3 linked regions of the Homo sapiens genome follow. The protein of the gene in region 1 purifies or fractionates together with the protein of each later gene. This does not show direct contact. Each region holds a gene or a part of one and is shown on either strand. Other genes may lie near its edges.

Evidence for each region. The genes of interacting proteins can lie anywhere in the genome.
Region 2: the proteins of KLC1 (region 1) and KIF5A purify together in Homo sapiens (co-immunoprecipitation; 8 studies listed by BioGRID and IntAct, with this or other methods). This does not show direct contact.
Region 3: the proteins of KLC1 (region 1) and KIF5C purify together in Homo sapiens (co-immunoprecipitation; 5 studies listed by BioGRID and IntAct, with this or other methods). This does not show direct contact.

What each region holds. Positions count from the first base shown.
Region 1 is NC_000014.9:103,666,987-103,674,569, reverse strand, and holds part of KLC1 (kinesin light chain 1), read right to left. Parts: intron 5,060-7,583; coding exon 4,972-5,059; intron 4,389-4,971; coding exon 4,287-4,388; intron 1,557-4,286; coding exon 1,383-1,556; intron 1,239-1,382; coding exon 1,139-1,238; intron 1-1,138. UniProt on the Homo sapiens protein: Kinesin is a microtubule-associated force-producing protein that may play a role in organelle transport. The light chain may function in coupling of cargo to the heavy chain or in the modulation of its ATPase activity.
Region 2 is NC_000012.12:57,566,558-57,574,140, forward strand, and holds part of KIF5A (kinesin heavy chain isoform 5A), read left to right. Parts: intron 1-568; coding exon 569-656; intron 657-936; coding exon 937-1,061; intron 1,062-2,405; coding exon 2,406-2,510; intron 2,511-2,698; coding exon 2,699-2,847; intron 2,848-2,977; coding exon 2,978-3,126; intron 3,127-3,429; coding exon 3,430-3,605; intron 3,606-4,763; coding exon 4,764-4,832; intron 4,833-5,503; coding exon 5,504-5,710; intron 5,711-6,022; coding exon 6,023-6,169; intron 6,170-7,583. UniProt on the Homo sapiens protein: Microtubule-dependent motor required for slow axonal transport of neurofilament proteins (NFH, NFM and NFL). Can induce formation of neurite-like membrane protrusions in non-neuronal cells in a ZFYVE27-dependent manner.
Region 3 is NC_000002.12:148,869,866-148,878,323, forward strand, and holds the start of KIF5C (kinesin heavy chain), read left to right. Parts: upstream 1-5,361; 5' UTR 5,362-5,752; coding exon 5,753-5,878; exon of another isoform or gene 5,879-6,330; intron 6,331-7,146; exon of another isoform or gene 7,147-7,477; intron 7,478-8,458. UniProt on the Homo sapiens protein: Microtubule-associated force-producing protein that may play a role in organelle transport. Has ATPase activity. Involved in synaptic transmission. Mediates dendritic trafficking of mRNAs.

The sequences.
Region 1 (7,583 bases):
GGTGGTGTGTGCCTGTAATCCCAGCTACTCGGGAGGCTGAGGTAGGAGAATCACTTGAATCCAGGAGGCAGAGGTTGCAGTGAGCCAAGATCACATCATTGCACTCCAGCCTGGGCAACAAGAACGAAATTCCACCTCAAAAAAAAAAAAGAAAACAAGCATACGAATCAATATTCGTTTTAAGTCATCTTCTCGGAACACTCACGCAAGTTTCTAGACAACCAACAGACCCATGCTATGGAGGAAAAAGCCACCTTAAAAGTAATGTTTATGAAAATATTTTTATGACTGAAAGGTACTCACACTAAAAATGTAAAGAAAATAAGCAGTATACATGATGATATGGACGGTATGGTTTGAAATCTGTAAACCAAAGGCACAGAAGGAAGGAAAGACATTAAAAATGTGAAAAGATGAATTTGGGTGATTCTCCTGTTTCCATTTCTGCATGAATTGGGTAGGTCTCTGCAATGAGGACATGAAGATGGATTTGGGTGATGCTCCTGTCTCCATTTCTGCGTGAACTGTATAGGTCTCTGCAATGAGGACATGTTATGGGCTCTGGGCACTGTAATCCCAGTCTAACTGCTTCTCAGCTACGGGGCCTCACACAAGTCACTTAGTCTGTGGTGTCTTTTTTTTTTTTTGAGACAGAGTCTCACTCTGTTGCCCAGGCTGGAGTGCAGTGGCACGATCTCGGCTCACTGCAAGATCCGCCTCCCGGGTTCACGCCATTCTCCTGCCTTAGCCTCCCGAGTAGCTGGGACTACAGGCGGCCGCCATCACACCCGGCTAAGTTTTTGTATTTTTAGTAGAGACGGGGTTTCACTGTGTTAGCCAGGATGGTCTCGATCGCCTGACCTCGTGATCCACCCACCTCGGCCTCCCAAAGTGCTGGAATTACAGGCGTGAGCCACCACGCCCGGCCTGTGGTATCCTTGCTTTTAAAATGGGGTAATGTTTGACCCGCTGCACAAGACTGCTGTGAAAGTGAAGTGAAATCACACATTTAAACTATTTAGCTTAGTGATGTACAAAGTTAAGTGCTTAATAAACAGTAACTAATACTATTAGTATATTACTATTAGTCAAGTCATTATACAATTAAATTCACTTGAAACGGGAGTATATTTCTTACCATCTACAGAACCAAACTCCCTTTCATGTGCACGAGTGAGAATCTCTTTGTACAGTGTTTCTGCTTGCTTGAACTTTCCTTGTTTCAAATAGCAGGATGCCTTAAAATAAAATAAAATAAAATATTTCATATCTTTCAGATGTAAATAAAGCATACATTTTAATCTCCAGTTAAATGAGAAAGTGTTTGGACTTGGGACGAAAGCACTCCTGGCCCCCTCCCTAGTGCTGTGCAGTCAACACACCAGGTTATTTTTCGTCTTAGCCACGTTGGGGTCATCAGGTCCCAGTTTTGTCTGGTAGATCTCGAGGGCTCTTTGATAATAATATTCTACTTCTTCATACTTGCCCTGGTTCTGGCACAGTAAGGCCAAGTTATTTAACTGCTTGGCAACATCGGGGTGATCCTTCCCCAAAACCTGAAAATAAAAAACAGCATATTAGAGACACTTGTTCTGCTTCCATCCAATCCATTCTCCACCCTACTGTCACATCAGGATCTTCCTCAACATAAGCACGACTGTGCTACACTTTCAGATTTAAATCCTTAACTGGCTCGCTACACCACGTAGTAATAAAATAACCAGAATTTCTCAAATTCTTATTCATGAGGGGAGGGAGGGAACTGTGCTCATCTTCTTTAGCTGTGTTAATTACTGTAGTAATCCTTCATGGTAGTTATATTTTTGTACATTGGTTGTACTATGTACAAATGTACACATTAGGCACATTTTGAAGATAAGGAAATGGGCTTTGTAAAGGCTATGTGAGTTTTACTGCCAGCTTCTGAAGAGCCCACAGCTGTCCCAGTTGCCCAGGATGCTCTTCTCCTAGCCCTCCCTACTAGCTACGACTTATCCTTCAGGGTTCTCCTCAGTTCCCCTCAAAGGAGACTTCCCTATACCACCCCACCTCACCTAGTGAACTCACAGGCACATCACCTGGTTGTTCTTTATAAGAATCACTTCTCTAAACTACCTTGAATATTTTTTATTACAATGTAAGCCCCAAGAGTATAAATTCTTTGTCTCTCTTCTTCACCAATGTAATCTCCGCATCGAAAAAGGGGTCTGGCACAGAGATAGATGAATGAACACTAACCTCCTCCCTCAGTACCTTGAACAAGTGATGAGTTCTCTCCGCTTTGTGCCTTTACACATGTGGTCCTCAGGGAGGTAAGCTGCCTTTCTACTCCCTTCTGCATTCCCTACCTCCCCCTGCCTAGGACACTTTTAACTCAATTATTCAAGATGCAGTTCCAACACCGACCTTCCCTGAGAAACCATCCCCAACACCCCCTGGCTCTGGCCCGCAGAAGCCCACACTTCATATCCTCCCAGAGCTCTCTATTCTAGATGCTGATGTGCCCTCTGCGGTCCTCAGTCTGTCCAGTGGACTGTGTCCTAGTGGGAGGAACTACATGTCTGATCTGTAAATCACCAACTCTAAGCAGGGGGCTCTAAATGAATGAAAGGGTAAATATATGAATGAATTTGGCAGGTCATCTTATATGGTTCCTAATCCTTAATTTGATACTTTTGTGCTCTCCCTGACTTTAACTCCAGCCCACCCCAAATTCAACCATTCTATTTCAGAAATATCATGCAGATTGACAGCATGATAAAATATTACCTGTATAATTTGATAAGGAGCCCCTTTTTATTTTCTCTCCCCCAATTCCTTGCCATGTGGCTCAAAATTAACTGATAAGAATCACTGATAAATAATCACAAAAAATACCAGGTTAAAATACCATTTGTGCGGCTGGGTGCAGTGGCTCATGCCTGTAATCCTAGCACTGTGGGAGGCTAAGGCAGATGGATCACCTAAGGTCAGGAGTTCTTGGCCAGCCTGGCCAACATGGTGAAACCCCATCTCTACTAAAAAATACAAAAATTAGCCGGGTGTTGTGGCACATGCCTGTAATCCCAGCTACCCAGGAGGCTGAGGCAAGAGAATTCCTGGAATCCAGGAGGCGAAGGCTGCAGTGAGCCGAGATCGTGCCACTGCACTCCAGCCTGGGCGACACAGCAAGACTCCGTTTCAGAAAAAAAAAAACACAATTTGTGGTCACTCATCGGATAGACCCAATACCCGAATCTTCATAACATCTAAAGAGATTGTCATACACAGCACTGCTGAAATGAACAAGTTGTTATATTTTTTAATACCTAATTACCATGAACTGTAGCAGCTGGTATTAAATATATATGACATTGACTTAATCTATAGCTCTGAGTTAATCTTTAGTTATAATAATAATTATTTCATTTTTCAGCTTCATAAAGCATATTTGGTGAATTTATCTTTAATCATGTTTTTCTTATTGACAAGCACATGTTCCACTGTCAAATGCAATGCTCCCAGGCTTTCCATCTCTAGTCCTCAGACATGTCTTCTTCAATCAGAGTCACTTCTAGGCCATATCAGGCTTGGACAGCATCAGACTCAGGACTGCACCTTTCTAAATGCACACGCCTCATAACTGGACCTTCTTTTCTTTTTTTTTTCTTTAGAGACGAGGTCTCACTATGTTACCCAGGCTGGTCTTAAACTTCCTAGGCTCAAGTGATCCTCCCACCTTGGCCTCCCAAAGTGCTGGGATTACAAGCATGAGCCACTGCACCCAGCCTGTAATTGAGTCTTAAACACTGATTTGTATGGGCCAATCTGGCTTTGTTTTGTGGGCTATTCTCTAATTAAATGAGTTGTTTTCAGCTAATAGTCAGTTAAAAACACATCACAGTGGTTATTTCTCAAAACCTAAAACCGAAAAATTTTTAAAAACACAAAAAACAGCGCCGGGCACAGTGGCTCAGCCTGTAATCCCAGCACTTTGGGAGGCCAAGGCGGGCGGATCAGGAGGTCAAGAGATTGAGAACATCCTGGCCAACATGGTGAAACCCCATCTCTACTACAAATACAAAAATTAGGTGGACGTGGTGGTGTGTCCCTGTAGTCCCAGCTACTTGGAAGGCCGAGGCAGAAGAATCACCTGAACCATGGAGGTGGGGGTTGCAGTGAGCCGAGATCACGCCACCGCACTCCAGCCCGGTGACAGAACGAGACTCCATCTCAAAAAAAAAAAAAAAACCACACACACACAAAACAAAAATCTCAAAGAAAACGACTGCCCCCTTCTTTTGTACCTTTTCTCGGATTTCCAGAGCTCTTTTACACAACGGCTCTGCTTCTTTGTACTTCCCTCTTTTACCATAAAGGACTGCAAGGTTATTCAAAGTCGCCGCCACCTGTCAACACAGAGAGAACCACTAAGAATGGTAAAAGATAACCAAATAAGAGTACATTTATACACCACATATTCATTTATATTCAATCTATACAGTAAAGCATTCTTAGTCGGATAGAACAATATGACTTCAGTTAAAATGAAAAGCGCAATTCACTAGAGTATAGATTATACAAAGTAACACTGCAGAATACTAAAATTAAACAAATCAACAACGTATTCCTGACTTTTTAAAAATTTCCCTGGAAGCCACAAAGCCAACCAAAACAGATTCATATGCAAATCTGACCAGATTTTAATGAAGACAATATAATTTTCAGAAAAAAATTTCTAGAAGGACATGCAATTTGATTTACAATCAAACAATACAGTTGGTGATCCATTTGAGGTGGGGTCATAAACAAATTAAGTGTGCTCTGGCCTGTCACTAGCACTGAGTAAGTGAAGACCTCCTACCTGCACCATCTAGGGAAAAGGCAGCACTTAAACTTTCCCTGTTGAGTTTAATGGTAAAATGAGTTGGATAAAAGAAATATATGGGGAAAATAAAATATTAAAAGAATGAAAGAACTGGATATACAAACCGCAGGATGATCTTTGCCCAAAGTTTTCTCACGAATAGCCAAGGCATCATTCAGTAGGTTAGCTGCATCTTTGTATTTATTCTGATCCCTAAATGGAAAAACACACATTAAGTGTTTCAGATGTAGATCACTACAGCTTTTCTTTTCTTTTCTTTTCTTTTTTTTTAGACAGAGTCTGACTCTGTTGCACAGGTTGGAGTGCAGTGGTGCCATCTTGGCTCACTGCAACCTCCGCCTCACGGGTTCAAGCAATTCTCTGCCTCAGCCTCCTGAGTAGCTGGGATTACAGGCATCTGTCACCACGCCCGGCTAATTTTTGTATTTTTAGTAGAGACGGGATTTCACCATGTTGGCCAGGGTGGTCTCAAACTCCTGACCTCATGATCCACCCGCCTAGGCCTCCCAAAGTGCTGGGGTTACAGGCATGAGCCATCGTGCCCGGCCTCACTACAGCTTTTTTAAATGTAATTTTCAACTACAGAAATAAAAGTTAAGCTTAAACTATTTAAGAAAAACCACAGGGCCGGGTGCAGTGGCTCATGCCTGTAATCTCAGCACTTTGGGAGGCTGAGGCGGGCAGATCACGAGGTCAGGAGATCGAGACCATCCTGGCTAACATGGTGAAACCCCATCGCTACTAAAAATACAAAAAAATTAGCCGGGTGTGGTAGCAGGCGGCTTTAGTCCCAGCTACTCGGGAGGCTGAGGCAGGAGAATGGCGTGAACCTGGGAGGTGGAGCTTGCAGTGAGCAGAGATCGTGCCACTGCACTCCAGCCTAGGCGACAGAGTGAGACTGTCTCAAAAAATAAATAAATAAAAAGATGGGTGTGGTGGCTCACGCCTGTAATCCCAACACTTTGGGAGGCTGAGGCGGGCGGATCACGAGGTCAGAAGATCGAGACCATCCTTGCTAACACAGTGAAACCCTGTCTCTACTAAAAATACAAAAAAAAATAGCCGGGCATGGCAGCATGCGCCTGTTGTCCCAGCTGCTGGGGACGCTAAGGCAGGAGAATGATGTGAACCCGGGAGGCGGAGCTTGCAGTGAGCATAGATCGCGCCACTGCACTAAAGCCTGGGTGACAGAGCAAGACTCCGTCTCAAAAGAAAAAAAAAAGAAAAAAGAAAAACCACAAGCTTATGGATGGGGAAAAAACACTGGAAGGAAATCCACCAATAAATGGACTGGCAAGGTGAACTCTGGAATCAGACCCAACTAGCTTCTGAACTTAACCTTCCCATCTAGGCCACTGGGAAGATAATGTCCCCACACTACAGTGTTGTCCTGCCTATGCCAGCTGGCCAGCACAGAATAAGTGCAACAGTCTAGAACAATGGACCAAGCTTGCATTTGGTTTCAGACAGAATTAATTCTAGTGTCTGAGCTTGGGCTCTACCAGTTAATGGCTACATGGCTTTGGGTGCATTACGTGACCTCACGCAGTCCCAGCCTTCCCATCTACAAAGCAAGTATATGATCTATTGCACAGTCTTGCTGTAAGAAGATGATATGCTACATGTATACTGAAAAAATATTTTAAAAAACAACAAACAAAAGTAAATATATTGTTGTGTCTGAACTTGGTACCCAGTCTCCCTCCATTTTGTTGAGTATGGAGGAACGAAGAATCTTTCTTGATTGGAGTAAAACAGAAACACCCCAGAACCAGAAACTCTCAGTTTAAGCGTGCTACTCACTACTGATGTGACTGAGAACAAGTACTTGCTTTTGAGACTTAGCACACATCTTTCTCAATTGAGTAGTAGTAACTGCCTGGCAAGGCTTTCCCCTGAAAAACGTGAGAAAGGTTAATAAGGCTTCTACAACCTCTGAAGCACACTAATTCTGGCCACGTATTAATATATTGTTGTTTCTTCTTTCATCCTATTACATCCTATTGTAAGCTGCCTCAAACTTTTTGTGAAAGTCAGCAAGTACAAAATAGAGTTCCAAAAAGTAGTGGCCAGGTGCGGTGGCTCACACCTGCAATCCTAGCACTTTGGGAGGCTGAGGCGGGCAGACTGCCTGAGCTCAGGAGTTCAAGACAAGCCTGGGCAACACAGTGAAACCCCATCTCTACTAAAATACAAAAAATTAGCCAGGCCTGGCGACATGCACCTGTAGTCCCAGCTACTCGGGAGGCTGAGGCAGGAGAATTGTAGCAAATGCAATTTAAAAATAAGCTACCAAGGCTGGGCACGGTGGCTCACGCCTGTAATCCCAGCACTCTGGGAGGCTGAGGCGGGTAGATCACCCGAGGTCAGGAGTTCAAGATCAACCAACATAGCAAGACCCTGTCTCTACTAAAAATACAAAAATTAGCTGGGTGTGGTGGCAGGCACCTGTAATCCCAGCTACTCGGGAGCCTGAGGCAGAAGAATCGCTTGAACCCAGGAGGCAGAGGTTGCAGTGAGCTGAGATTGTGCCATTGCACTCCAGCCTGGCCAACAAGAGTGAAACTCCGTGTAAAAAAAATAAAATAAAATAAGCTACCTAAAGTGTTATGAGAATTAAATGAGGCCGGACATGGTGGCTCACGCCTGTAATCCCAACACTTTGCGAGGCTAAGGCGGGTGGGTCACCTGAGGTCAGGAGTTTGAGACCAGCCTG
Region 2 (7,583 bases), on another chromosome or scaffold:
GTGCCACCACGTCTGGCTAATTTTGTATTTTTAGTGGAGATGGGATTTTGCCATGTTGGCCAGGCTGGTCACGAACTCCTGACCTCAGGTGATCCACCCACATTGGCCTCCCAAACCAAAGTGCTGGGATTACAGGCGTGAGCCACCATGCCCGCCACTGTTTCAAAAAAGTAGTAAATACGTAAGATAAAAATAAATACAAAGCAGGGCATGGTGGCTCAAGCCTGTAATCCCAGCACTTTGGGAGGCCAAGGCAGGCGGATCACGAGGTCAGGACTTTGAGACCAGCCTGACCAACATGGTGAAACCCCGTCTCTACTAAAAATACAAAAATTAGCCGGGCGTGTTGGCTCATGCCTGTAATCCCAGCTACTCTGGAGGCTGAGGCAAGAGAATCGCTTGAACCTGGGAGGTGGAGGTTGCAGTGAGCTGAGATTCTTGACACTGCACTCCAGCCTGGGCAGAGCGAGACTCCATCTCAAAAGAAAATAATAATAATAAAAATAAATAAATAAATACAAACTTAAAAAACAAAGCTTATGGGTCACTGTCCATTTGTCCCCCACAGGGTTGTACTGAACGCTTTGTGTCCAGCCCGGAGGAGATTCTGGATGTGATTGATGAAGGGAAATCAAATCGTCATGTGGCTGTCACCAGTGAGTGAGGATACAAGGGGATCTCTCGAGTCTGAGGATCCACTTGTGTTCTGTGTCCTCTGGGGTGGAGGGACTCAAAAGTGAGCAAGGAAACTGTACCCCCCAGAGGAGGAGGACCCCTTGTCTGTGGGACCCTGCTGCCTGGGAGATGTGGCAGCAGGGCTAGTCCTGGTGGGCACCTTCTCTCTGGGTGGGCGGGGCTGGGGTCAGTGGAAGCCGGGGGCTGAGGACCTCAGTTCTGCAGGGTGGTGCAGGTCCTGTTTCTCCCTTGCTCCTGCAGACATGAATGAACACAGCTCTCGGAGCCACAGCATCTTCCTCATCAACATCAAGCAGGAGAACATGGAAACGGAGCAGAAGCTCAGTGGGAAGCTGTATCTGGTGGACCTGGCAGGGAGTGAGAAGGTAGGGGGTCCTGTGGATATGGGGTGGGTGGAAGCCTTGGCTCTTTTTTTTTTTTTTTTTGAGACAGAGTCTCACTCTGTCGCCCGGGCTGGTTTGCAGTGGCACGATCTCTGTTCACTGCAACCTCCGCCTCCTGGGTTTAAGTGATTCTCCTGCCTAAACCTTCCAAGTAGCTGGGATTACAGGTGCCCACCACCACGCCTGGCTAATTTTTTGTATTTTTAGTAGAGAGGGGATTTCACTGTGTTGGCCAGGCTGGTCCTTGGCTCTTTTTTTTTTTTTGAGACGGATTCTTGCTCTGTCACCCAGGTTGGAGTGCAGTGGCACGCTCTCAGCTCACTGCAACCCCTGCCTCCCAGGTTCAAGTGATTTTCCTGCCTCAGCCTCCCTAGTAGCTGGGATTACAGGCTCCCGCCACCAAGCCCAGCTAATTTTTGTATTTTTAGTAGAGACGGGGTTTCACCATGTTGGCCAGGCTGGTCTCGAACTCCTGACCTCGGGATCCACCTGCCTCGGCCTCCCAAAGTGCTGGGACTACAGGCATGAGCCACTGTGCCCGGCCGACTCTTTTTTAACTAAAAAATGATTTGCATTGGGATATAATTCACATACCATAAAGTTCACCATTTTAAAGTGCAATTCAGTTGTTTGTAGTATGTTCCCAAGGTTGTGCAACCATTACGCTATCCAATTCTAGAGCACTGTCATCTTCTATTCACAGTCACTCTCCATTGTCCCCTAACCCCATCCCCTGTCAACTTCTAATCTACTTTCTGTCTCTATGGATTTGCCTATCCTGAACATTTCATATAAATGGAATCATATGGCTGGGCACGGTGGCTCACACCTGTAATCCCAGCACTTTGCGAGGCCGAGGTGGGTGGATCACCTGAGGTCGGGAGTTCGAGACCAGCCTGGCCAACATAGAGAAACCCCATCTCTACAAAAAATGCAAAATTAGCTGGGCGTGGTGGCACATGCCTGTAATCCCAGCTGCTCAGGAGGCTGAGGCAGGATAACCGCTTGAACCTGGGAGGCGGAGGTTGTGGTGAGCTGAGATCGCACCATTGCACTCCAGCCTGCGCAACAAGAGTGAAACTCCATCTCAAAAAAAAAAAAAGGAATCATGTAATATGTGGCAGGGGTTAGGGGCAATGTGGTGTTTGACAAGACAGTTTAGGGGAACAGAGGAAGGGCCTTCCCCAATCCCAGCCAAGCATCTCTGTTACTCCATCTTCTTCCCTGTTCCTTCCTTCCTCCGTGGACTGAGCCCTGGAACGAGGTGGTGACAGCCCTCTCCATGTGCAGCTGCTCATACACACTCATCTCTTACTGCCCTGGTAGGTCAGCAAGACTGGAGCAGAGGGAGCCGTGCTGGACGAGGCAAAGAATATCAACAAGTCACTGTCAGCTCTGGGCAATGTGATCTCCGCACTGGCTGAGGGCACTGTGAGTGATCCTTAGGTCCCCTCACCCCTCAAGCCACACCCCATCTCCTCCCCCACCTGCTAATGCCACCATATGATCATGCCCCAATTCATGGGTTGTCTGATCCCGGGGTGGCACCACTATCCTTTCTGATTCCCTGTTGAATTTTATTTGTTTATTTCTGATTCCTGGTCTCCTTCCTCCCCCAGAAAAGCTATGTTCCATATCGTGACAGCAAAATGACAAGGATTCTCCAGGACTCTCTCGGGGGAAACTGCCGGACGACTATGTTCATCTGTTGCTCACCATCCAGTTATAATGATGCAGAGACCAAGTCCACCCTGATGTTTGGGCAGCGGTCAGTGGCAGGGTCCCCAGAGGGATCCCTGGTACCCAGCTTCCCATCCCAGCCTCTGCGGCTCTCTCTCCTCAGGGTCACCCAAGTCTCATGTTGCTCTCATTTCTTTGTTCCTCTTCTCCTCACCCAGGGCAAAGACCATTAAGAACACTGCCTCAGTAAATTTGGAGTTGACTGCTGAGCAGTGGAAGAAGAAATATGAGAAGGAGAAGGAGAAGACAAAGGCCCAGAAGGAGACGATTGCGAAGCTGGAGGCTGAGCTGAGCCGGTGGCGCAATGGTTAGAGAGGGATAGGTGGGAGTGAGGGGCAGTGGGAAGAGGAGGAGGATGTTTGGGAGCCAACTCTGTTTGGGTGGTGTTTCTGGCCAGGCCAATCTCCTAGAAGAGGGGCTGTGTTTCTGGACAGGTGCAGTAGAGCAGTCATGGGGGAAGGGAGGGGCCTGACTACCTACCTCCCATACTCCCAAAAGGTAGAGGGTCCACCTGGCAAGAGAGTTCAAGGGGCATGGTGAGTGAGAAGGAAGAACTCGTGGATGCAGCTTCTTCTTCTTCCATCTCTCACCTCGTCTTGCCCCTTTGCAGGAGAGAATGTGCCTGAGACAGAGCGCCTGGCTGGGGAGGAGGCAGCCCTGGGAGCCGAGCTCTGTGAGGAGACCCCTGTGAATGACAACTCATCCATCGTGGTGCGCATCGCGCCCGAGGAGCGGCAGAAATACGAGGAGGAGATCCGCCGTCTCTATAAGCAGCTTGACGACAAGGTGAGGGCGGCCAGGCAGGGCACTGAGGCACGCCAGGTGGGATGAGAGGTAGACGATCAAAGAAAATCGCTTATATTGCCTCTTTCTGGTTTTAAAAGGGATAAATGCTTATGCTTGAAATGTGGAAACATCAATATAAATGTATGTAAGAAAATTAAAATCATCCACTATTCAGAGATAACACTCAACATTTTGCTTTTCTCTGTGCATATACCATGCAATTGAGTTATACTGTATAAGTAATTTTTTTTTTTGAGACAGGGTCTTGCTGTGTCGCCCAGGCTAGAGTGCAGAGGCACGATTGTGGTTCACTGCAACCTCTGCCTCTCGGGTTCAAGTGATTCTCCTGCCTCAGCCTCCAGAGTAGCTGGGATTACAGGCGCATGCCACCACGCCTGGCTAATTTTTGTATTTTTGGTAGAAACGGGGTTTCACCATGTTGGCTAGGCTGACCTCTGGCGATCCGCCCGCCTCGGCCCCCTGAAGTGCTTGGATTACAGGCGTGAGCCACCGTGCCCGGCCTGTATATGTAATTATACATCTGATTTTTTTCATTCAGCATTATATTATGCACAATTTCCTACTTCATTAATAATTCTTCATAAAAGTATTTTTATTTTCATTTATTATTATTATTTTGCTTTGAGAGAAAGAGTCTTGCTTTGTTACTCGGGCTGAAGTGCAGTGGTGCAGTAATAGCTCACTGCAACCTCAAACTCCTGGGCTCGAGGGATCCCCCCCAACCTCAGCCTCTGAAAGAGCTGGGACTACAGGTGCACACCACCACGCCCAGCTAATTTTTTTTTTTTTTTTTTTTTGGTAGAGTTGGAGTCTCACTTTGTTGCCCAGGCTGGTCTCAAACTCCTGGCCTCAAGCGATCCTCCCGCCTTGGCCTTTCAATGCGCTGGGATTAAAGGCATGCACCACCAGGCTAGCTAATATTTTAAATTTTTTGTAGAGACAGGGTCTCACTATGTTGCCCAGGTTGGCCTTGAACTCCTGGCTTCAACCGATCTTCCTGTAGGATATGGGGTTTCTAACTCAAAGCTTATACTATCTGGATTTTTATCAGGATCCTGCCTCTACCCCCAAACTTCTTACGTCTAAACTGGAAGGAGTAGCTTCCCTTCACCTGTCTTTCCCTGTTGCCTCCAACAGGATGATGAAATCAACCAACAAAGCCAACTCATAGAGAAGCTCAAGCAGCAAATGCTGGACCAGGAAGAGGTAATAGGAGGGAGGGCAGGACATGAGAGGAAAGGGGTTCTGTTCATCACTGGAAGGCATGGAATAGACCTTTTTAAAATCAGATGGAAGAAGGCGCTTTCTGCTTGGGGATTAATCACTCCCCTAAACAGCAGAAGTCTGGGAACCTCACTGGGGCTTTTCTTTTCTTTTCCTTTTTTCTTTTCTTTTTTTTTTTTAGAGATGGAGTCTCAATTTGTTACCTAGGCTGGAATGCAGTGGGGCAATCTCAGCTCACTGCAGCCTCGATCTTCCAGGGTCAAGCAGTCCTCCTGCCTCAGCCCCCTAAGTAGCTGGGACTACAAGTGCACCACCACACATGGCTAATTTTTGTAGAGATGGAGTTTTGCCATGTTACCCAGGCTGGTCTCGAACTCCTGAGCTCAGGCAATGTGCCCACCTAGGCCTCCCAAAGTGCTGGGATTACAGGCGTGAGCCACTGCGCCCGGCTGGGGCTTTTCTTAAAGCACAAATTTTAAAGTCTGGGGGCTTCTTCATTCTTCATTCTGTTGCCCTATTTCTATGAAACCTAAAGCCCACTTCCTCTTAACTCTTTATTTTGGGTAGGGTGGGGGCTCAGCTTCCCAGACCCAAGGCCATAGAAATGGTCACTGGCAGTGATCTTTCCCACATGCCACTCCTCTCCCTTGAAGCTGCTGGTGTCCACCCGAGGAGACAACGAGAAGGTCCAGCGGGAGCTGAGCCACCTGCAATCAGAGAACGATGCCGCTAAGGATGAGGTGAAGGAAGTGCTGCAGGCCCTGGAGGAGCTGGCTGTGAACTATGACCAGAAGTCCCAGGAGGTGGAGGAGAAGAGCCAGCAGAACCAGCTTCTGGTGGATGAGCTGTCTCAGAAGGTGGTAAGTGGTGTGCCAATGGTCCAACAGCTCCCTGACCACAGAACATCTCCCATGTCGAGGGGACCTCTGCATCCTTCCAGGGCTGTATGGTGGCTGCACCTCTGCACTGCTGTTCAGTGCATTGTGAGTCCCTCCCCAACCCTGTCACTGCACTTTCCCCTCACAGTCCCTCTGTCTTTCAGACTCTTCTGCAGGGCCTGTGTTCTCTTCATAGCAGCCCTCAGGGTCTTGCATGAAGGGAGAGGCCTCTGCCTGGGCTGGGCAAGGGAGCAGGAGGATGGCAACAGGAATGACCTGAGGGGCTGTCCCCAGGCCACCATGCTGTCCCTGGAGTCTGAGTTGCAGCGGCTACAGGAGGTCAGTGGACACCAGCGAAAACGAATTGCTGAGGTGCTGAACGGGCTGATGAAGGATCTGAGCGAGTTCAGTGTCATTGTGGGCAACGGGGAGATTAAGCTGGTGAGTGGTGAGAGACAGCAGCCTTGTTCAGGCTGGGCACTAGTGGAAGACGCAAGATGAGCCATCCAGGCCTTCACAGATACTGAGAAAGGCAGCCAGAGAGCCAGGAAACATGCCTTTGAACTAGACCCAGGAAGACAGGTAGAGGCTTGTATAGACCCAATTGAAAAGATACATTCTAGGTTGGGCGCAGTGGCTCACCGCTGTAATCCCAGCACTTTGGGAGGCCGAGGCAGGCGGATCACTTGAGGTCAGGAGTTCGAGACCTGACCTCGCCAACATGGCGAAACCCTGTCTCTACTAAAAATACAAAAATTAGCCAGGCGTGGTGATGTGCACCTGTAATTCCAGCTACTCAGGAGACTGAGGCAGGAGAATCGCTTCAACCTGGGAGGTAGAGGTTGCAGTGAACTGAGATCACACCACTGCACTCTAGCCTGGGTTATAGAGTGAGACTCTGCCTTAAAAACAAAACAAAACAAAACTAAATTCTAACGGGTGCTGAATAAAGAAGCAATGGAGGCCAGGCATGGTGGTTCATGCCTGTAATCCCAACATTTTGGGAGGCTGAGACAGGCGGATCGCTTGAGCCCAGGAGTTCACGACCAGCCTGGGTGACATAGTGAAACCCTATCTCTACAAAAAATACAAACGATTAGCTGGGGGTGGTGGCACACACCTATAGTACCAGCTACTTGACAGGCTGAGGTGGGAGAATCACCTGAGTATGGGAGGTTGAGGCTGCAGTGAGACATGATTGAGCTACTGCAATCCAGCCTGGGTGACAGAGCCAGACCTTGTCTTAAAAAAAAAAAAAAAGAGGCTGTACATGGTGGCTCACGCCTGTAATCCCAGCACTTTGGGAGGACGAGGCGGGTGGATCACCTGAGGTCAGGAGTTCGAGACCAGCCTGTTCAACATGGAGAAACTCCGTGTCTACTAAAAATATAAAATTAGCCGGGTGTGGTGGCTCATGCCTGTAATCCCAGCTACTCACGTGGCTGAGGCAGGGGAATCGCTTGAACCTGGAGGCGGAGGTTGCAGTGAGCCGAGATTGCACCATTGCACTCCAGCCTGGGCAACAAGAGTGAAACTCCGTCTCAAAAAAAAAAAAAAAAAAATTTGGGAGGCCGAGGCGAGGTCAGGAGATTGAGACCATCCTGGCTAACACAGTGAAACCCTGTCTCTACTAAAAAAATACAAAAAATTAGCCAGGCATGGTGGCGGGCGCCTGTAGTCCCAGCTACTCAGGAGGCTGAGGCAGGAGAATGGCGTGAACCTGGGAGGCGGAGCTTGCAGTGAGCAGAGATGCGGCACTGCACTCCAGCCTGGGTGACAGAGGGAGACTCTGTCTCAAAAAAAAAAAAAAAAAGCAGCAGCAACAGAGCAGTGCTTGCAGTAGGAGTTAGAGGTG
Region 3 (8,458 bases), on another chromosome or scaffold:
ATTGTGATTTTGATTTGCATTTTCCTGATGATTAGTGATATTGCATACTTTTTATGTGCTTATTGGCTATTTGTATATCTTTTTTGAAAAAATGTCTTTTCAAGTCCTTTGCCCATTTTTTTTTAACAACTGGCGATCAATTTATTAAAATAGTTGACTTAAGCATCTCCAATGATGACTTCCACCTCAACTCCTGGCTCCATACTGATGGAAGTAATCTGCTTAATCTCAGAAGGGCTGTGCAAGTCAATGAGTTGCTTGTGGATTCTCATCTGGAAATGATCCCATGTCTTAGAACCTTCACCAAAAGGAGTTTTTCTTGTAGCGATTCTCGAAGTCTTAGTAGGCATTTGAACTGGTCCTTTCACTTTGAGATTCCTTTCCTTTGCTCCTCTGATCAAGTCAGCACACACCTCCTCCAGGGATTTTAAGCTGTGGCTCATAAACAGTGATTCGAATTCAGTGAATTGCCACCTCCGGCTCCAAGGGTGTTTTTCCAGTATCTTTAAAAGCCACAGCTGCTGCGTGGCTTCCTGACCGACTGGTTCCTTGGCGAGAGCAACAGCAGTGAGTCAGGAGCAGGAGCAGAAGCGGGCAGACCACAGCTCGGCACCACTTTCGACGGTGTCTTCCTCAAAGAGCTCTAACTTTTTTTTTTTTTTTTTTTTTTTTTTTTGAGACGGAGTCTCCCTCTGTAGCCCAGGCCGGAGTGCAGTGGCGTGATCTCAGCTCACTGTAACCTTTGCCTCCCAAGTTCAAGCGATTCTCCTGCCTCAGCCTCCCGAGTAGCTGGGATTATAGGCATGCACCACCACACCCGGCTGAAGTATTTTTAGTAAAGATGGGGTTTCACCATGTTGGCCAGGCTGGTCTGGAACTCCTGACCTCAAGTGATCCGCCCACTTTGGCCTTTCAAAATGCTTGGATTACAGGTGTGAGCCACTGCACCCTGCCCAAGAGCTCTAATTTTTAAATAGCTTATTTACAAAGCACTCTATGCTTCAGGTCAAACATTTGTCAAGCATCTGCAATATGCCAAGAACTATACAGATTTCATTACCTAATTTTAAAATTAAATTAAGACCCAGAGAGGTAATAGGATCTATATAAGAATGCTCGAAATAGTGAAAATAGCCCTGTATCTGGAGGTTTAGCTCTGCCACTATCATGATTTCTACTGTACAATATACCCATGCAAGTCACTTTAAATTATTTCATAGGTTAAAGGCCTTTTTACTAAAAAAGAAAGAAAAAATTTTAAATTAAGTCCTTACTCGTGCCAGGACCTGTGCTAAAGTGTGTGTGTGTGTGTGTGTGTGTGTGTGTATATATATAACGTTTCTCATTTAAATCTCCTGAAACCTCTGTAAGATAGGTTCTGTTATTATCCCCATTTTACAGATGGAAACATGAGCTTAGAAATGCTAAGTCACTAGCTAGAAATAATGCAGCTAGTAGGTGACAATTATTTGAATAGAGTCTGACATCAGAGACTGTACTCTTTAAAGCACACACACAGTATTTGGATACTCTTGTATCACAGATAATATAGGGAATTTCAACATGTAAAACAATTCAATTAGTTCACAATTTTAGTCAATTTGGTACATATCATTCACATGCTTATAAACAGAAAATAATAGGAAAAATCAGTCAACAAACACCTGGGGAGAGAGGGAAAAGGCAACTTCATTTCTCTTTTGATAGGATTCTAAATACCACAAATAGGAGAAAACAGCCAAATCAAAAGTTAGGAAATCTGTAACTTCAACCTTCATAAAGCGTAAAGTGTGTCTTTAAGAAGCAAAGATTTAGGGAAGTGCCATTTGGGCACCTCTCACTCTCAAAAATGAGAGAGCTGTTCTCCTTTTTCTTTTTTTTTTTTTTTGCGACAGAGTCTCATTCTGTCACCTAGGCTGGAGTGCAGTGGTGCGATCTTGGCTCACTGCAACCTCCGCCTCCCGGGTTCAAGTGATTCTCCTGACTCAGCCTCCTGAGTAGCTGGGATTACAGGCGCATGCCACCATGCCCGGCTAATTTTTGCATTTTTAGTACAGACAGGGTTTCACCATTCTGATCAGGCTGGTCTCAAACTTCTGACCTTGTGACCCACCTGCCTCGGCCTCCCAAAGTGCTGGGATTACAGGTGTGAGACACCGAGCCCGGCCCTGTTCTCCTTTTTCTTTCTTTTGCCTATTAAACCTCTGCTCTTAAAACGCACCTCCCCCTCTGGCCCTGCCCCCCCCCAAAAAAAGAGGCAAAGATTTAAAAAGTTAACAGGAAAAGACTACTTTATCACATTTAGCTTGAATGCTAAGTAGTAACATTTACTAAGGTCCACAGTTTACTGCTTACTACACAGTTTACCACTTTACTACACAATAACCCACCCTGGACTGATGGCTTCTTCAGGAACACTGAGAGAATGTAAAATACAGGAATCCTGATAATTCTGCATTCTTCGAGCAATCATTATAATCAAGCTGATGTTTTTATCCGTCATCATTGTGTATAGTTCCTTTGTTGTAATTGCTCCTTTCTCTTTGGTCTCACATTTTTTCACTCTTTTCACCATTGCTCTTTTGGGTTTTGTCTTTGGAATCCAATACATTCTCCAAAGAAACTTTAGCCAATGTGCCACCATCCTCTCTTCCTGTTTCCTGCCTTTTTTGTTGTAGTTGCTGTGCTTCCTTCTGCCTGTCCTTTTCCTCAAGTTATTTCCGGACTTCAGCTTCTTTATATCTTAGTTTAAGGCTCTCAGAGAGTCTTTCAGCTTCTTCAATGGCTTTTTTGATGTTTGCAGTTCCAAGTATTGAATGGACGTAATCCTCTTAGTGCTTATTTTCTCTGGTTTAACTTCTGTCTTCTTATTGAGGTCTTTTAGTGAAGAACTCAGGTAGAGTTCTTTAGGAACTAAAGCCACAGCAGGCATGGTGAATTATCTTTACTTTTCCACGTTCACGATAGATGCTATATTTCCTTAAAAGTAGTTTTTTCCGTGGCGTCGGGTGCGCTTCACTAACACCAGCCTTCTTGCCAAAGGCCCATCTCCCAAGAACTCGAGGGAGAATTAGCCTTGGCTACCAAGATGGAATCCAGCCCAGCTCATCATCCTTTGCCCATTTTTAAAATTTTTTTTTGGTTGTGAGTTATAGGTATTCTTTATATATTCTGTATATTAACTCCTTATCAGATGTATTATTTGCAAATTTTTTCCCATTTCATGAGCTGCCTTCTCACTCTGTTCATAGCATCCTTTGATGTGCAAAAGTTTTAATTTTGATGTAGTTAAATTTATCTGTTTTTTCTTCTGTTACCTATCTTTTTTTTTTTTTTCCCTGAGATGGAGACTCACTCTGTCGCCCAGGTTGGAGTGCAGAGGCACAATCCTGGCTCACTGCAATCTCTGCCTCCTGGGTTCAAGCGATTCTTCTGCCTCAGTCGCCAGATTAGCTGGAATTACAGGCACGTGCCACCATGCCTGGCTAATTTTTGTATTCTTAGTAGAGACCAGGTTTCACCAGGTTGGTCAGGCTGGTCTCAAACTCCTGACCTCAAGTGATCCACCCATCTCAGCCTCCCAAAGTGCTGGGATTAACATGCGTGAGCCACGGCGCCCGGCCTGTTACCTATCTTTTGGTGTCCCTTTTCAATTGTTTTGAATCCTACTTAGCCCATTTCCTATATTAAGCCTTCTCAGACAACACTGAGAACTTCATCCTCTGTACTCCCACTAGTTTCTAAGCTGCCTGAGGGCGATGACTTATTTTGCAACCTCCCTTCAAATGAGAGGCCCTACGTTATCTCCCTTGAAAAGGGTTCACTTAATAAATCTAAGTTTACAGAGTGACAGCAAATGCCATTTGCTCAGTTAATAGCTGATGAATGAACAGATGAACGAATGAATGATGACTGAACACAGTGACACACAGATACGTCTCTGTCCACTTGAGATAATCCTGACCTCCTCAGATAAACCAGTGTATGCAAGGTTCTGGGCATCTTCTGGTGGGCTCAGGGAAACTGAGAATTGGATTGTCCTCTCTAGTATATTATGAAGTTGATCATTTAAGATGATGGGTCTCTGAGCCAGAGCCTGAGAATTACTTAATTTAAAAACAGATGAGAAGGTGGCACCTGGGTCTTTTTAATCTACTTCCACTGCACATGAGGAGATGAAATAGAACTGGTACTACTTACAAGGGTTTATAAAAGTTGATTTTAGTAGGTCTGTCCTCTCAGCTAGGCAGAGAACACTTGTATTTTCAGGTATTACCCGAATTTAAGCAACAGATGTGTTCCTAAAATTAACTAACTTATTTGTTTTATGATCATTTGTTCAGCACCCAATAACATCTAACTTTCAAGAGCTTATCCTATATACATGTCAGGCACCGTGCTAGGTGCTTTAAAAGCATCTGTCTTTTAATTCCCCCAGAAATCACAAGATGATATTATTCCAATGACAGAGATGAGGAAACTGAGTCTTAAGGAAATTAAGACTTCTTAATTTCCTCCGCTCTTAATTTCCTCCGCCTGTTGGTCATACATCTAATAAGTGGCTGAGGTGGGATTCACACTCATGCATTGCTTCTTCCTAGGGTAGAATCCTTATTCAGTATGCTGCCCACTATGTGCTAGATGCTACAGACACAAAGATATCAAGCAGATATCACCACCCAAGTGCAGTGCTAGAGACAGGCACAGCAGATTAGGGGAACATCAAGGAGGGCCACCAACTCTTTATAGGTGTTTAGTGAGCTGGGAAAGTCTGAGGAAGGAGGGTTGAGCTAGGTCTTAGAGGAAAAGGAAGTTCTGGAAAAATAGAGTGGACACTCAGTTGTTCTGCCAGCCCGGCACCATGTCTGGGAATACCATCCCTCTTCTTTTGGGAACCTTCCCACCAAGGGATTCCTCCATAATCTTACAAAATCCCTGATTCTGGTTGATTGGTTTAGCACTAGATGCCAACCTAAACCAAGGCCAATCAAACCCAAACTCTGAACAGACATCCATCCTTATCTAGTGGTAGAAGTTGAAGGATGAAACCCAGGGGCTATTGGGAGCTGTTTCCCAAGTGATTTTCTTTTGGGATCAGGATGATCCAGACCCAGTTATCTAGAGATTTTAACCGGAAATATTGGATATGACCTCCATCCGGTTCCGGCTTGGGCAGCCAGACCGGACTTGCAGGCTCTTGGAGGTCGCATCCTGTCCTTCCCCCGGCAGGTAGAGTGACTACAAGTCCCGGGATGCGCAGCGCTCGGAGTCGGGCGGGGGCCGGGCGGACCTCTACGGTGACGTCACCGTCCCGGGGCGGGCCAGGGGAGGGCGGGGCGGAGGGGCGGGTCTCAAGGCGGCAGAGCGCGCTGGTGCTGATGCAGGATGGCTGAGCGCGCAGGAGCCCGGGAGGTCTGAGCCGGGCGAGGCTCGCTCCCTGCGCATCGCCTCCTCCGCCCGCCGCGTGGTCGCGGGCAGGTGGGCCGGGGGGCGCTGGGCAGGGGCGGGGCAGGGCCAGGGCAGGCCGGTCTGCAGCCGGAGGGGCCGGAGCGGAGAAGCTGCCCACCTTCCCGGGCTCGGAGCGGCCGGGGCTGCTCAGCCGGCCGGGCTCGCGATGACCTGCTGAGAAGCGTCGTCGGAGGCTGCAGGAGGCGGCCTAGCTGTGGGCGGTGCAGCTCGCGGCCTCCTCCCTCGTCGTTCCCGGCCCCGGCCCCCCACCCATCCCCGTGCCCCCTCCCTACCGCCGGCCGAGATGGCGGATCCAGCCGAATGCAGCATCAAAGTGATGTGCCGGTTCCGGCCCCTCAACGAAGCGGAGATCCTCCGCGGGGACAAATTCATCCCCAAATTTAAAGGCGATGAGACCGTGGTGATCGGGGTAAGTGGCTGGGGCGTCTGCCTTCCCTGCTGCTCCGCGCCGCAGCTGGGCGCCCCGACGCCCCAGACGCAGCGGAGGTGTTTAGGCCGCCCCCTCGGACATTCCCGCGGGGCTGGCCTCTCGGGTGGACCTGACCAGAGACCCCTCGCCCCGCGCACTATGGTTCCCTCCCGGGCGGGTGGAGAGGCGGCCGGGAGCGGCGGGCCGGGCGGGGGTGGCGGGGGTGGGGATGGGGGGCGAAGACGGGCTCGGCGCCGCCATTGTTCGCCGGGTGGGGGCCCGGGTGGGCCCATTGTTCCCCACGCTCGCCTCGCCGCGTGGGTAGTGTGTTCGGGTGACCCTCAAGCCGGGTGCCCAGGCCCCCTTTAAAGTGTGAGCTCTGCAACCCGCAAATGCTTCTGGGCATCAATCAATTCGATTTACCAAACGCCTTGCCTCTTCTTCTCACGACCCTAGCAAAAAAGAAAGAAAAAGGGGTACAGGAAAATTTCTAGTCGCGTCTCGGAGCTCCCGCGGCAGTGTAGACGCGGCTCCCCGCGGTGTTACACCTGGCTCCGCGCGCGGAAGGCGGAGGGTTGGGGGAGTACTGGTGGCCTCGGTGTCCCCTGGAGGCCTGGTGTGTCTCCCGCTTCCTCTCACGCCTGGCTGCCCTGGATGTGGAGTCCCGGCTTGATCCCTCCCCTCTGGGATGACCTCCCTCCCATGTCTGCAGACCCTCTGATGCGCCTCACGCTGGGTGGAGAGGAGGCTGTGTCCACATCTGTGGGGCGAGGGGGCTCAGAGCGCAGTAGCCCCCTGTGCCAAGAGCAGAAGTTACTTCGTGCGGCTCGGACCCCCCTCCCTCTCTATCTCCCTTCCCCACCTTTTCTCCCCCACCCCCTCCCCCTACTTAGCTCCCTCTCTGCAGCTGGGGCTGCTGGTAGGGGGAGGGAACACCAATGGATTGTAGTTCTTAAAGGAATCTGTCAGATGAAACAAACCAGCTCGGTCCCCCGCCCCTTCCCCGCCCGCTGTCCGTAGCGTGTGTGGCTGATGGTGCCCCCTTTGTATGCGAGCCGCGTGGGGAGGGACCGAGTTAATGGGAGCCTCCCGGTCCCCGCTGACACGTTCCTGGCAGCCTGCTCCAGGCTGCTGATGCAGCCTTCCCGTCCCCAGCATTGATTAAGTGATGTCATCCTGATCACTGAGCATGCTCCGACTAACCCCCTCCTCCCCTTCCTCCAGTGGCTGGTGTATTTAGGTCAAGTGATTGACAGGTGACAGTTTACCGAGGGTATTGCAGGAGTCCGCCTGGCCTTTCTCAAGCGCCAGAGGCCGACGTTTTCCAGCCCGGGCGGTCCCCAGCATCTTTGCCAAGGTTGTCTGCCGCAGTCGCAGCGAAGGGCCCTGGGGACCAGCAGGTGCCAGCTGTACCGTAAGGCGGGAGCTCTCCACGCTAGAGGAGCCTGGGCAAGGCTCTGGCCTCAGGGCTTTAACCTGTACCTGGCTTTAAAAGGCTGCTCCCTTTGACGACCTCTTCTCACCTCCCCATTTTCACAGTCATCAGGAACGTCTGACCTCCAAACGCTGTGTGGATGGGCGATCATTCTGCGAGCTGACCTATGAGGGCAGGAAAGCGGGGTTTTCTCTCTGTTTAGTGTTAAACTTGCAGAGAAGATATAAGCTACGATTATTGATGAGGAAGGAAATTCTGCAGTTAATGGCAGATAAGTGTTAGTGACATATACATAGGCAGTACCTGGGGCAGTTAGTGACTTATTTGGTTTACAGCTCTCAGCCAGTATCTGCCTACAGCCTGATCTGCTACTTTCTGAGCCAGGCTGTGGTTTAGATAGAGTGGGAGTTACTGGGGACATCTAGTCCCTGCCCCTTGGCTTGTAACAATTTTTAAACAAATAATTGTGCAGTACTGGAACATGTTCTGGCAACCCTATTTTTTTCCCAGAGGTTTTGAAGAGCCTGAAGAAGTTTTTCTTCTCCCCTCCTCCCTCCTCCCCCATCCCCTTTCCCCTCTCCCCTCTCCCTTCTCCTCCTCTTCTTCTTCCAGAACCAATGAAATGAAGTAATAAATCATCTTCCTTGACCTGTATGCAAGGCAGAGCTCCTTAATTTTAGAATTATCCTTCTTTAATATGACATTGCTATGAGTATATATTTCCTTATCTAAATAAACATATATTAGTGGCTAAACAAATTAAAACCAAGTCACCATATTAAATAAGAAGTTTAAATAAAAATCATAGATGTGAATATACACATTGCTTTTCAACCGTAAAGTAAGTTTTGCTCATCCTACTATAATCCTTTAATACAACAGTTTTCAGTTTTTCTAAGGTAAACTTTTTATTGAAATGAAGCATTCATATAGAAAACTGTTATCATAAGTATACAGTTGGATGACTTTTCATAAAGTAAATGCTCCCTGTAACCACCTCACAGACTAAGAAACAGACATTTTGGGACCCTAGAAATCCCCCTTGTGGCCCTTCCAGTCCCTAAATCCCCCTGCTTCAGGGTAACCATGATTCTCACTTCTGATGCTATTAGTTTTGCTTGTTTCTTTTTAACTTTATATTACAT